Linked DNA regions of Homo sapiens: region 2 is linked to region 1. The links come from fine-mapping of genetic effects on gene expression. Tissue or cell type: whole blood. Region 1 holds a variant in brackets; the other region holds the start of a gene. All regions are shown on one strand. Distances are from middle to middle.

The links. PIP is the estimated chance that this variant, and not a neighbour inherited with it, causes the effect.
Region 2: ANKRD9 starts here. The variant in region 1 is fine-mapped to the expression of ANKRD9 in whole blood (INTERVAL, PIP above 0.99).

The regions. Positions count from the first base shown.
Region 1 is chr14:102,455,243-102,461,668 of GRCh38, reverse strand. The region is part of intron 16 of TECPR2 (tectonin beta-propeller repeat containing 2); the gene reads right to left. Among named protein-coding and RNA genes, the nearest start is that of ANKRD9, 51 kb to the left of the region's middle. The variant ATATG/G (reference allele first, on the strand shown) is at 2,699.
Region 2 is chr14:102,507,020-102,513,445 of GRCh38, reverse strand. It overlaps ANKRD9 (ankyrin repeat domain 9), which reads left to right and starts at 3,670. Exons shown (of 4, transcript NM_152326.4): 1 at 3,670-3,917; 2 at 4,600-4,805; 3 at 4,897-4,971; 4 at 5,504-6,426. The coding sequence starts at 5,557. It overlaps LOC105370679 (a long non-coding RNA gene), which reads right to left and starts at 3,403. Exons shown (of 4, transcript XR_007064352.1): 1 at 1,895-3,403; 2 at 632-1,068; 3 at 112-215. RefSeq lists enhancers at 1,663-2,306, 2,307-2,952, 2,953-3,596 and silencers at 3,077-3,126, 3,287-3,726, 4,721-4,882.

The DNA.
Region 1 (6,426 bases):
GCCAGCTTCGTGGAGCGGGGGCCACGGTTCACTGTGTGAAGTCGCTGATATCTGGGGCTTGCTACCGAAGCACAGCCCAGCCTGGCTGATGCAAACACACTGACATTTTCCTGTCTGTCCCTGCTTTGTCCTTATTTTTTTCTCTTGTTTTAAAAAAATGCTTTAATTACTTTATTCGACAAAGCAGACATTTTCCCTTTAGGATTATTTCTTAAACATATCATTTTAAAACAAAAAGTGGCATTTATTTGACATTTTATTTATAAAATACTTTTCTGTATAAATTACTGCGTAACACAATCCTGTTTGTTACCTAACGGCATAAACTGACACTGAATAGTTCTTCATTAAATGCTGTGACCTGATAAATTAAATTACAAATTTCATTAGTTTGCTAAACATTCCAATGCCTGACATAATGCATATTTATGTGTACTGGGAAATGAAATGTTACAAGCATCTTAAATATCTGCTAAGTGATGCAAATTTTCTTCCAAAAACTAGGATTATAATAAATCACTACAAAATTCCATATTCAACTGCTACAACTTGGTTCAGCAGCCAACCATTTAATTTAAGAATTCCTTTAATTTAATCCTATAGCAGTAATTGCTCTGGTAATTTGTATAGGGGTAGAAAGAAGAGGGAAGCTGTATTTAAAAAAAAAAAATTGAGGCTGGGCGCAGTGGCTCACACCTGTAATCCCAGCACTTTGGGAGGCTGAGGCGGGTGGATCACAAGATCAGGAGATCGAGACCATCCTGGCTAACACGGTGAAGCCCCATCTCTACTAAAAATACAAAAAAATTAGCTGGGCATGGCAGTGGGTGCCTGTAGTCCCAGCTACTCAGGAGGCTGAGGCAGGAGGATGGCGTGAAGCTGGGAGGTGGAGCTTGCAGTGAGCGGAGATCGTGCCACTGCACTCCAGCCTGGGCGACAGAGCGAGACTCCGTCTCAAAAAAAAAAAAAAATTAAAGGTAGAAATCATGTTCATTATTTGATACTTCGCTAAAGTCATCCTCATCCTTGAAATTAAAATTTAATTTTTTTTTTTTGAGACAGAGTCTTGCTCTGTCACCCAGGCTGGAGTGTAGTGGCGTGATCTCGGCTCACTACAACCTCTGCCTCCCAGGTTCAAGGGATTCTTGTGCCTCAGGCTCCCAAGTAGCTGGGATTACAGACATGTGCCACCACACCTGGCTAATTTTTGTATTGTTAGTAGAGACGGGGCTTCACCATGTTGGCCAGGCTAGTCTCAAACTCCCGACCTTAGGTGATCTGCCTGCCTTGGCCTCCCAACGTGCTGAGATTACAGGCATGAGCCACTGTACCTGGCCTTGTTTTTTAATTAATTGATTATTATTAGTAGTATTTTTTGAGACAGAGTCTCATTCTGTCGCCCAGGCTGGAGTGCAGTGGCACCATCTTGGCTCAGCAGTGGCATAATCTTGGCTCACTGGAGCCTCTGCCTCTCGGGTTCAAGCGATTCTTGTGCCTCAGCCTCCTGAGTAGCTGAGACTACAGCGCCCACCACCACACCCAGCTAATTTTTGTATTTTAAGTAGAGACAGGGTTTTGCTATGTTGGTCAGGCTGGTCTCAAACTCCTGGCCTTAAGTGATCCTCCTGCCTCAACCTCCCAAAGTGCTAGGATTACAAGCGTGAGCCACCACACCCAGTCTGAAATTAAAATTTCTGCTTGCCTTTTAGAGAAGACTGATGATGGTCCTGACCTAACAATGAGTTAGTGCTGCCCAAGGTCAACACTGTCCCCGAGGGAGCAGAGGTCATGCTGTCCAAGGCTGCTTGCTACTCATACAACCAGGAAGACACTTGTAAAGAAAACACCAGGGCTGAAGGGAGAACACATGTAAATGTATCTCTAACAAGATTTTTTGGTTTGCTTTTTTGAGACGGAGTCTCGCTCTGTTCCCAGGCTGGAGTACAATGGCATGATCTTTGTAACCTCCACCTCCCGGGTTCAAGCGATTCCCTTGCCTCAGCCTCCAGAGTAACTGGGACTACAGGCAAGCCACCATGCCCAGCTAATTTTTGTATTTTTAGTAGAGACGGGGTTTCACCATGTTGGCCAGGATAGTCTTGATCTCGTGATCTACGCACCTTGGCCTCTCAAAGTGCTGGGATTACAGGTGTGAGCCACCATGCCTGGCCGACAAGTTTTTATAACCTAACATCTTCTGCCTCATGCCCTGGGAAGGCTGATGGCAACTTAGAGCAAGAGATGAGAATTTTCCTGGGAGGGTGGGAGTCACATCATCCACCAGGCTACTGTGTGTGATGACATCCTGTACTTGCATGGAAGGCAGTTTTATCTTTGACTACCAGTAACATGGCCAAATATAGGATCAAAACTCACATCCCAGAGTTACTCAGAAATGGAGCTGCAAACAGTACTGACTTTCCCTGACATTTTAAATCCTGCTGGTGCAGCTGCATGCAGTTGTAATCCCCGCACTTTGGGAGGCTGATGTGGGAGCATCACTGGAGCCCAGGAGTTTGAGACCAGCCTAGGCAACATAGTGAGACCCCATCCCAAATTAAAACAAAAATCCTGTTGGGTACGTACTGTCACCAAGCAATTGGTCTCTGCCTGTAAAGTCCCTACACACTCCGTGTGTAAACTTTCAACAAAAATAATGTGAGTCAAACTAAAATTACATATATATATATATATATAT[ATATG/G]TGTGTATTTTTTTTTTTTTTAAGAAACAGGAGCTTGCTCTGTTGCCTAGATTAGGCTCAGCTTCCCAGGCTCAAGCAATCCTCCTGCCTCAGCCTCCCAAGTAGCTAGGACAACAGGTGTGCGCCACCGTGCTTGGCTCTGAAATGACAGGTAGAAGCACAGTGCTATGATGGGGACAGTCAATGAAGAATGTCTGGTGGGGAGGTGCGATCTCAACTGAGTCCTGAAGGAAGAAGAGTTGAAGGAAAGCAGCCCACGGAAGGAATGCTAGGCCCCAGGAAGAGAAGCAAATGGGTGGCATGAACATGCACCACACATTAGGGAAGGGCAGGAGTTCAAGACCAGCCTGGCCAACATGGTGAAACCCCATCTCTACCCAAAATATGAAAGTTAGCCAGGGCCCCAACACAAAGGCCAGGAGTGGCTGGAGTCCCCAACGCACGAGGCCTCGGAACAGCAGGCCGGGTCTGGCTGCGAGACCCTGGGTGCCACACCAAAGACTGGAGCTGTATTCTAGTGGCAGCGTGGAGCCATGTAACGTGGAGGGCAACACCATCTGAGCTGGGTTTGAGGAAGACAGCTCTGGTAGCCGTGGTGGGAGGTGGGCACACCTGGTGCCAGGAGGCAGCTACTGCAGTACAGCAACTTGGTGACGAGGGGGCTCCACCCTGACAGTGGTGGGAGGGAAGCAGAGGTCCAGAAGCAGGGAGATCCTCGGGTAGATGGCCAGGACACTGCTGAGCGACTGGCCAAAAGAGCACTCTGGTCTTTCCAGCAGAATTTACTGGGAGCAGCAGGGCTCAGTGGCTCACACCTATAATCCCAGCACTTTGGGAGGCTGAGGCGGGTGGATCACCTGAGGTCAGGAGTTAGAGACCAGCCTGGCCAACACAGTGAAACACCGTCTCTACTAAACATACAAAAATTAGCTGGGCGGGGTGGCACAGGCCTGTAATCCCAGCTACTTGGGAGACTGAGGCAGGAGAATCGCTTGAACCTAGGAGACGGAGGTTGCAGTGAGTCAAAAATCAGACCATTGCACTCCAGCCTGGGCAACATGGTGAGACACTATCTCAAAAAAAAAAAAAAAAAAAAAGGGAATTTAGTGGGAGCAGAGGAGCGAAGTTAGGAAGAAGAGCACAATTGGGGGAGGCTAAATTTGATATTGAACAACATCCTCAAATGCAGTCACTGTGTTTCCATTCATTGCTGTGTGCACCCCCTACTGTTGACTTTAACAAATATTTTTAGAGATGGGGTCTTGCTATGTTGGCCAGGTTGGTTTTAAATTCCTGGCCTCAAGCAGTCCTCCCAAAGTGCTAGGATTACAGGTGTAAGCCACTGCACCCGGCCCACTGCTGACTTGTAAAAAATAAATGAAGCACCCCAATTAATTCCAGATAAGTAACACAGGCAGCAGCCATGTCAGCTTGATGACTCTCCTTTACAGTCAATAATCCCCATTCAATGCATGCCACCTGATGACAGCCGCCATGCACAGTCATACACGGGCTCCTGGGCAGACAGCACACCTGCATTCAAAATTTTCACTTAAATAAGTAATTATTAAAAGGTCTCTTGGGTCAGGCGCAGTGGCTCACACCTGTAATCCCAGCACTTTGGGAGGCCAAGACGGGTGCATCAGTTGAGGTCAGGAGCTCGAGACCAGCTTGGCCAACATGGTGAAACCCCGTCTCTACTAAAAACACAAACATTAGCCGGGCATGGCTGTGGATGCCTGTCATCCCAGCTACTCGGGAGGCTGAGGCAGGAGAATCACTTGAACCCAGGAGGCGGAGGTCGCAGTCAGCCAAGATTGTGTCACTGCACTCCAGCCTAGGCAACAGAGTAAGACTCTGTCTCAAACAAACAAAAAGAGAAGTCTCTTGACCTACCTGCTTTTCCTGCAGGACACAGACCATACCTGGAGAGAGCCTAATAACTGAACACCTGGTGCCCCTGGCCTGATGCTCACTGCCCCTACCCTGGCATAGTGAAGGCTGGGGAGGTGGCTGTTCTTTCTAGGGGAGAAACTCAGCTTCAGTGAGATTGAGTCTCAACTTAAGAGTGACAGGGAGGCTGGGTGCGGTAGCTCACACCTGTAATCCCAGCACTTTGGGAGGCTGAGGCGAGCAGATCACGAGGTCAGGAGATCAAGACCATCCTGGCTAACACGGTGAAACCCCATCTCTACTAAAAATACAAAAAATTAGCCAGGCGTGGTGTTGGGAGCCTGTAGTCCCAGCTACTCGGGAGGCTGAGGCAGGAGAATGACGTGAACCCAGGAGGCAGAGCTTGCAGGGAGCCGAGATTGCGCCACTGCACTCCAGCCTGGGCAACAGAGCGAGACTCTGTCTCAAAAAAAAAAAAAAAAAGAGCGAGAGGGAAACAGGAACAAGTCCACCCTGAGTCCAAGATGGCCTCGAGCCCTCCAGTGTTCAGCAGATACTCGTTGAGGGGATAGGTGCGTGTGCAGAGGAACAGCCTGGGAGTCCCGGTTGCCTGTTCACCTCCCTTGCCCCAACACAAAGCTGCCAACCCTGGACTTGCTGCATTCTCTCAGGATGTGTAGGAAACAGGAAAGGAGTCTTAATCTGACATTTCAAGATCAACCAGATAACTCAAATAAACAAAATCTAAAGTTCAGGGCAGGATAAGGACTAAGCGAGGTGGTGCTTTAACAAGAGATGCTGGATTTGTCCTCCCTGTGGCACAAACTGGGGCAACACAAGCAAAAGCCCCACCACCAGCAGCTAACAAAGACTAGAGAGCACCCCCAAGCAAGACGTGTCACAGCCTTAGGATGACCACACCGCCCGGAGATGGCCAACATTTAGACGGGATGCCCCGTGCATCCTCCAGGGGGTTGGGCTTGGGGGTTGCTGCTCCCATTAGAAAGGAGAGGAAACCAAGGCCGGGCATGGTGGCTCACACTTGTAATCCCAGCACGTTGGGAGGACAAGGCAGGTGGATCATTTGAGGTCAGGAGTTCAAGACTAGCCTGGCCAACATGATAAAACCCCATCTCTACCCAAAATACAAAAGTTAGCAGGGACTGTACGTGGTGGCTCACGCCTGTAATCCCAGCACTTTGGGAGGCGGAGGCAGGCGGACCACCTGAGGTCAGGAGTTCAGGACCAGACTGGCCAACATGGTGAAACCCTGTCTCTACTAAAAATACAAAAAATTAGCCAGGTGTGGTGGTGGGTGCCTGTAATCTCAGCTACTCGGGAGGTTGAGACAGGGAGAATTGCTTGAACCTGGGAGGCAGAGGCTGCAGTGAGCCGAGATCGTGCCACTGCACTCCAGCCTGGGCGACAGAGCGAAACTCCGTCTCAAAAAACAAAAAAATTAGGTGGGCATGGTGGCACATGTCTGTGGTCCCAGCTACTTGGGAGGCTGAGGTGCGAGGATTGCTTAAGCCTGGGAAGGCAGAGGTTGCAGTGAGCCAAGATCGTGCCACTGCACTCTAGCCTGGATGACAGAGTGAGACCCCACCTGGAAAAAAAAGAAAGGAGAGGAAATTGCGGTTCAAGGTGACAGCAGCTTGCCCAGAGTCCAGAGCCCGCCTGGGGCCCAGCTCTGTCCTGCCTCTGCCATGAGTCCCCACACCTCTGCCTGTGACCTCCTTGCACCCACTGCTGTCTGATTCATTTCGGGGTCAGCCGGATACTGACATTGATTTGCTAATGATTTTGCAGGCGGAACACAGGAGGTCAGTGA
Region 2 (6,426 bases), 52 kb before region 1:
CCCATCTCCAGGGCCATGGACACCTCTTGGCTCTGCCATCTTCCAGGTGCTCAGCTTTCCCCTAATACCCGGGAGGCCTCCTAGATTCTCCTCTTCTGCTCACACCCTCACCTATAGGTCAGGGGCCTGGCAGGAGGCGGCACTTCTCTCCAGGGACCCCTGGTGCCCTCCGCCTGCTCCAGCACAGTTGGCTTCAGTGGCTGCGGCCTCTCCGTCTCCCTGCAGTGCATACTCAACTAGAGTTGTCGAGAAAACCTAAGCCGGCCATACCACCCCTCCGAGGGCCCTTCCCACTCCCCAGCGTCCTCACACACTTTCCGGGGCCTCTGTGCTTGCAGCCCCAGCCTCCCCCTACTGCCTGTGGCTCCCTGCCTGGGCACACACAGACCCCTGCCCTGGTGGGACAAGCCCTCCCAGAGGAAGAGGAGTGTGCCTGGGTCAGGTCCCAGCAGGAGCATGATGGGGTCAAAGGTCAACTCCTATCCCAAGATGGCAAGACCCCCCTCCGCCCTCCACCTGGGGCTTCCTAGGTGTTTGGAAGTCATGCTCTGCCCATTCCCCTGCCCCAGCCACCCTCCCCGCAGCCCATCCTCCCTCCCTGAGGAACCTGCCCCTTCACAGCTGTTCACACGTCCCTGGGCAGCCTCTAGTGCAGCAGCGATGCCATGAAACCACCGTGGAGGGCACCATCAGCCTTGGCACTGCTGCCTTAGGAGGTGCAGCATGTCCACACTCATGCCCACAGGGGACAGCTTTCATCAGAAGACACTGCAGCAGAGATGGCGGCTGCAACCCAAAGCAGGGGGTTCCCCTGGGGCTGGATCTAAAAGTGACCTCAGGAGAAAAAGGCAAGAGGCTGAGGTGAGGCAGTGCTGTGGAGCCCCATGGCAGGGAGTGTTACTATGTCTGCTGCCACTTGCACTTACAGTGGGAAAGACGCACGCGGACTCACACTGAGGCTGGCTGGGGAGGGAGGGGACAGGCACGCAGGGCTTCCGATCTGCCGTGTGTTGCTCCTTCAACTGGGTCCCGGGCTCCCAGGCATCATGATGCTCTTTGTATGTGTGTCTAAAATAATTCACTAGTGAAACCACTTCCCAACCCCTCCACTTGGGCCTCAGGGGAAAATCCAGGATCCTTGCCGGGCATTCCAGGCCCCATGGGACCTGGCCAGTCAGGTGGCCTCTGCAGCCTTTGTGTCACACTCCAGACCTTGGCCCCTGCTTTGCCCTCTGCCAGAAATGCCTCTTTCTGCCCATCTGGACTTTGTGGCTATGTCCATGTCCACAGGAAGCTTCTAGGCAGCAGAGAAACAGGGTCAGACTTGGCTTTTAGAAAAAGGTCTCTGGGGCAGGCAGATCACTTGAGGCCAAGAGTTCGAGACCAGCCTGGCCAACATGGCAAAACCCCGTCTCTACTAAAAATACAAAAACTAGCTGTGAGTGCTGGTGCATGCCTGTAATTGCAGCTACTTGGGAGGCTGCAGCATGACAATTGCTTGAACCTGGGAAGTGGAGGTTGCAGGGAGCTGAGATTGCACCACTGCACTCCAGTCTGGGTGACAGAATGAGACTTTGTCTTGGGAAAAAAAAAAACCCTCTGGGATCCCCAGTGAGGAGGGCAGGTCAGGGCACGGGGGCAGGGAAGACATCAAGGGGTGGAGAGAGACCCGCCCTGAGGCCCAGTGCACAGCCTGGCATCCACTGGTGCCCTTTCACCCTCATTCCACCAGTAGCCATGGAGACGGCTGTATCTCAACTCCAGCCTTCGAAGAGGGCAAGAGAGCAGGGGAGCCTTGAGCCACAGACAGCCCACATGGGCACCATCTCCCCAAGATGTCCCCCAGGGTTTGGGCTCCCAAAGGCCGATTGTTGACTCCAGGACCTTCACTCACTTTGCTCTCCCCACCATCGTACTCAGAGGCATCCAGAACCGGCAGATGGGAGAAGCCCTAGGGAGATAGGCCTAGATACAGGAGGAGACATGTGGAGCTGAGGCAAAGGCGGGTGCGGATGCCAGGCCCAGTGCCCTCTATACCCCTACTCCTGCTGACAACCTGGCTGCTGTAAGCTTGGCAGTTGCCATGGACTCCCTGGGAGAGATGGCGTGGCCTGGAACGTCCCCCGCCCTGAGGTGGGGCAGGGCTGGTGGGGTCTGGTCATCCCCCTGGTGGGTCCATGCATGGCAGCCTGGGCAGGATACATGTGAGTGCCTACCTGGGCTGGGGTGGCCTGACCCTCTCTGGGCCTCACAGCTTTGTCTGCCTCATGGTACTGTCCACCTGGCCTCTCAGGACTGCTCTGTGGCGTGTGTGCTTAAGGGATTGAGCTCGTTGGGCTGGGGACAGAGGCCTGCCTAGGTCTGTTGAGAGGGCCCAGGTAAGACTTCCACCCAGACTGACTGGCTGGGGCACACAGAGAAGCCAGGACAGGGCTGATTGTGTGTGCAGGGGCGTGCCCTCTGGACGAGGCCCCTCCCACCGGGGCGAGGCAGAGGCCTTGCTTGGTTGGAGCGGAGTGGGGGAGTGGGAGGGTCTCCCTGGTGAGATAGTACTGGAAGGGCAGGGACAGCATTCTAGGGAAGGAACCAGAAAGAGCCCCTGCATGGAATGTGGGGATTTCACCATGAGACCCCGGCTGCCTGGCCTCTGAGAACGTGTGTGGGGGGATTCCAGGTGGAAGGTCGTGTCTGGGAGGATGGGTGGGGGGTTGAGCAGTCATTGCCCCTCTCCAGATCTGCGTCCACATCTGTAAAATGGGCCTAGAATTCCCAGCCGCTGGGGGCGAGTGAGGCCATAAATTAGTTGAGATGGACCCAGGCTCCTAAGCCCCCTAGGTCATGACCCCAAACCTTGGAACCCCCGACGGAGACGGTGGGGGTGGCCGAGGCCCAATCGAATCTATCCCGCCCAGATGTGGGAAGAACCGCAGGGCAAACCCCCGGCTTCCCTCCTGGCCGCTCCTCTCTTTGAGGCCACCTCTCTGAGCCCTGATTTGCTGGCGGGTGAACTGGGGATCATCGTGTCCACTGTGGCTGGTGGTCGTGAAACGAAGTGGAAACATGAGTGTTGAGGCCGAGATGGGCGCAGTGCGCGCTCCTAAACAGCTGTCCCCATCCGTCCGCCCCTCCCTCCCTTGCGCGGGTCAGCTGGAGCGGGGGCGCGCCAGGCACGACCCTGGCCGGGCAGAAGGCGGTGGAGCCCTTAGGGGTCGCGGCTCCTACCCCCGGCCCTCCCATGTGCAGATGGGGTAGCAGCCTGGAGGTTTTTCCCAAGGTCACGTAAGGTCAAAGAAAAGGGGAGCTGGACGCGACGAGGAAAGTCACGCACGGCGGAGGGCGGGCCACCTACGCGCGCGCCCGAGTTCGCAGAGCAGCGGCGCCCTCCCGGGCTAGGGCAGCTCGGAGCTCGGAGCCTTTCTTCGCCCGCAGCTCGGGTTCCGGGAGCCCCGCCCCCGCCCATCAACGCCCCGCCCCTTTCGCCACGGCCCCGCCCCTCCTCTCCGTTCTCCCCGCCGGCGCTCCCTCAAGTTTCTCCGAAGTTTTCCGCGGGTCCAGCGGTGCGCCCCGCCCGCCGGCCAGTGACGTAACAATGGTGCAGCGCGGCGGCCAATGGGTGGTGGCGGGGGCCGGCGGCGCGGGCCAATGGCGGCGGCGGACGGTCCCGCTGTCCTGCCTGGCCGGGGCCGCACTGCGCCGCCCGCCGCCCGCCGCCCGCCGCCCGCCGCCGGCGACGGCACCGCCGCCCTGCGATCCGGCCGCGGCGGCTCAGAGCGCGGCTGCGGCGGGCGCGGGCGGCGGTGGCTCCCTCCCGTGCGTCCGTCGTGGGACCTTTGCCCGCTCGCCCGCGGGGGACAGCGCGCGCTCCGGTCCGCGGCAGGGGCGGGGACGCCCGGCCTGTGGCCCCCGCGCCCCCCATGGTGAGTCCCCGTCCCCCGCGCCGCGCCCGCGGCCGCCGCCCCCTCCTCCTCCGGCACACGCGCACGCAGGTGCAGCCCTCGCTGCGCCGGCCACCTGCGCGCGGACGCCCCGCTCGGCCCCGCGACCCTCCGCCGCCCGACGTCTGGCCGTGCAGGCCGGGAGGGGACGGGTAGGAGGTGGCGGGTGGCCCCGGGCGCGGCGCTGCCTTCGATGGCCCAACCCCCTTATTCACGAGCCGCGGCCGTGACTCTGCCCGGTGACGTGGGGAGGCCGAACTTTACGTAACCCGCCCGGCGCCCCACGCGTGCCGGCACAGGGCATATCTGGGGCCCGGAGGCCCAGGCTTGGGGAAGGGGCTCCAGTCACGGTGTTGCCCACGGGCCACAGCCTACCCGCACCGCGCCGCTCTCTTTAACTCAGTTACTGCCAGTGATAGTGACCCAGTCAGTGTGTGTGGACGCGGCCTGCCTTCTGTCCCAGGCCCCTTGTGACCAAGGGCTTACCCTTGAAAGAAGGCAGTAGGGAGGTTGGGACGGAGCCAGAGGTCAGACGCCTAGGCTCAGGTCGGGGCTGGGGACTCAGAGGGCAGGGTCAGGGCCTAAGCTCGATTGCCTGTGGGTTGGGGGTCCCCACCAATTCTGGAATGAGCCCAAACTGAGACGCAGGGGACCTGAGTTCTAGGCCTGGCTCTGCCGTGGCTTGCTGACCTTGGAGAATTGGAGAAGCTTGTGCCCTGCTGGAAAGTGGGATGGCAGTACCCGCTTCATCTAGTAGTCGGGGAGATCAAGAGAGGTATGGGACCTGAAGAGGATGGCAGACTGTGCAGTGCGGTGCACACCGGTCTCCAGGTTGTTTTCACCCTCCTATCTCCTCCCAGGAGCTAACGTGTAAGCAAACATGTTTGGATAGAGGGCTGGTGCCACGCCCCAGGCTCACCCCGCCCGCACAGCCGTCGTCCACCCCTCCCCTTTCTTACAGATAAAGCTGAGGCTCGGCCAGGGACTGTGATATACCCACATCCCCGGAACTAGGTGATCGCGGTGCAGGAACCAGGTAGGTCTGAGTCTGGATCATGCCTCTGAACAGCCCAGGAAGAGGCTCCAGGGGCCTCCAAGTGGTCTGGGGTCGGAGATCAGGGTCAGGGTTGCGCTTGGGCTGGAGAGTGGATTTGCCTCAGCTTGAGATGTGGGCCCAAGCTTTCTCATCCCCTCCCTGGCCTTTTCTTTATTTGGGGTCGTATGAACCTGGCTTAGGTGGGAACAGAAGCTCTTCCAGTGGGTCCCTGGGTTGGAGAGGGGAGGGGAGATTTGAGGGCATGGGCAGCAAGGGCATTTCCAGCAGAGGTGCCAGAGAGCAAGTCAGTTTCAAGGAGGGAGAACAGGTACAGCTAGATCAAGGATGGAGGCGGTGGTTCTGGGCGTCGGAGAGATGGAGCTGTAGGGTGACTGGAAGGGCCTGGCCGAGGCTGGAGGTAGGTACAGGCCTGGTGGGCCAGGACCGGAGGGGCTGTGTGAGGGGCAGAGGGGAGTCCCCGGGCCTCCCCAGTTTCCCCGCGCCTCACCGTGGCCTCTTCCTTTCCCCGCAGGTGTGCCTTCGCGGGATCCATGCCTTGAGGCCCAGGAACGCCCCGCCGCCAGCATGCCGTGGGACGCGCGGCGGCCTGGGGGTGGCGCGGACGGCGGGCCCGAGGCCTCGGGCGCGGCGCGCTCGCGAGCGCAGAAGCAGTGCCGCAAGTCGTCGTTCGCCTTCTACCAGGCGGTGCGCGACCTGCTACCCGTGTGGCTGCTGGAGGATATGCGCGCCAGCGAGGCCTTCCACTGGGACGAGCGCGGGCGCGCCGCCGCCTACTCGCCCTCTGAGGCGCTGCTCTACGCGCTCGTGCACGACCACCAAGCGTACGCGCATTACCTGCTGGCCACGTTCCCGCGGCGCGCGCTCGCACCGCCCAGTGCCGGCTTCCGCTGCTGCGCGGCTCCCGGGCCGCACGTGGCGCTGGCAGTGCGCTACAACCGCGTGGGCATTCTGCGCCGCATCCTGCGCACCTTGCGCGACTTCCCGGCCGAGGAGCGGGCGCGCGTGCTGGACCGGCGTGGCTGCAGCCGCGTGGAGGGCGGTGGCACGTCGCTGCACGTGGCCTGTGAGCTGGCGCGCCCCGAGTGCCTCTTCCTGCTGCTGGGCCACGGCGCCTCGCCCGGTCTGCGGGACGGCGGCGGCCTCACGCCTCTCGAGCTGCTGCTGCGCCAGCTGGGCCGCGACGCCGGGGCCACTCCCTCCGCCGCCGGAGCCCCCGCCTCAGCTCCCGGGGAGCCGCGCCAGCGCCGCCTGCTGCTGCTGGACCTCCTGGCGCTGTACACCCCCGTGGGTGCCGCCGGCTCGGCCCGCCAGGAGCTGCTGGGCGACCGGCCGCGCTGGCAGCGGCTGCTGGGTGAGGACAAGTTCCAGTGGCTGGCGGGCCTGGCGCCGCCCTCGCTCTTCGCGCGCGCCATGCAGGTGCTGGTCACCGCCATC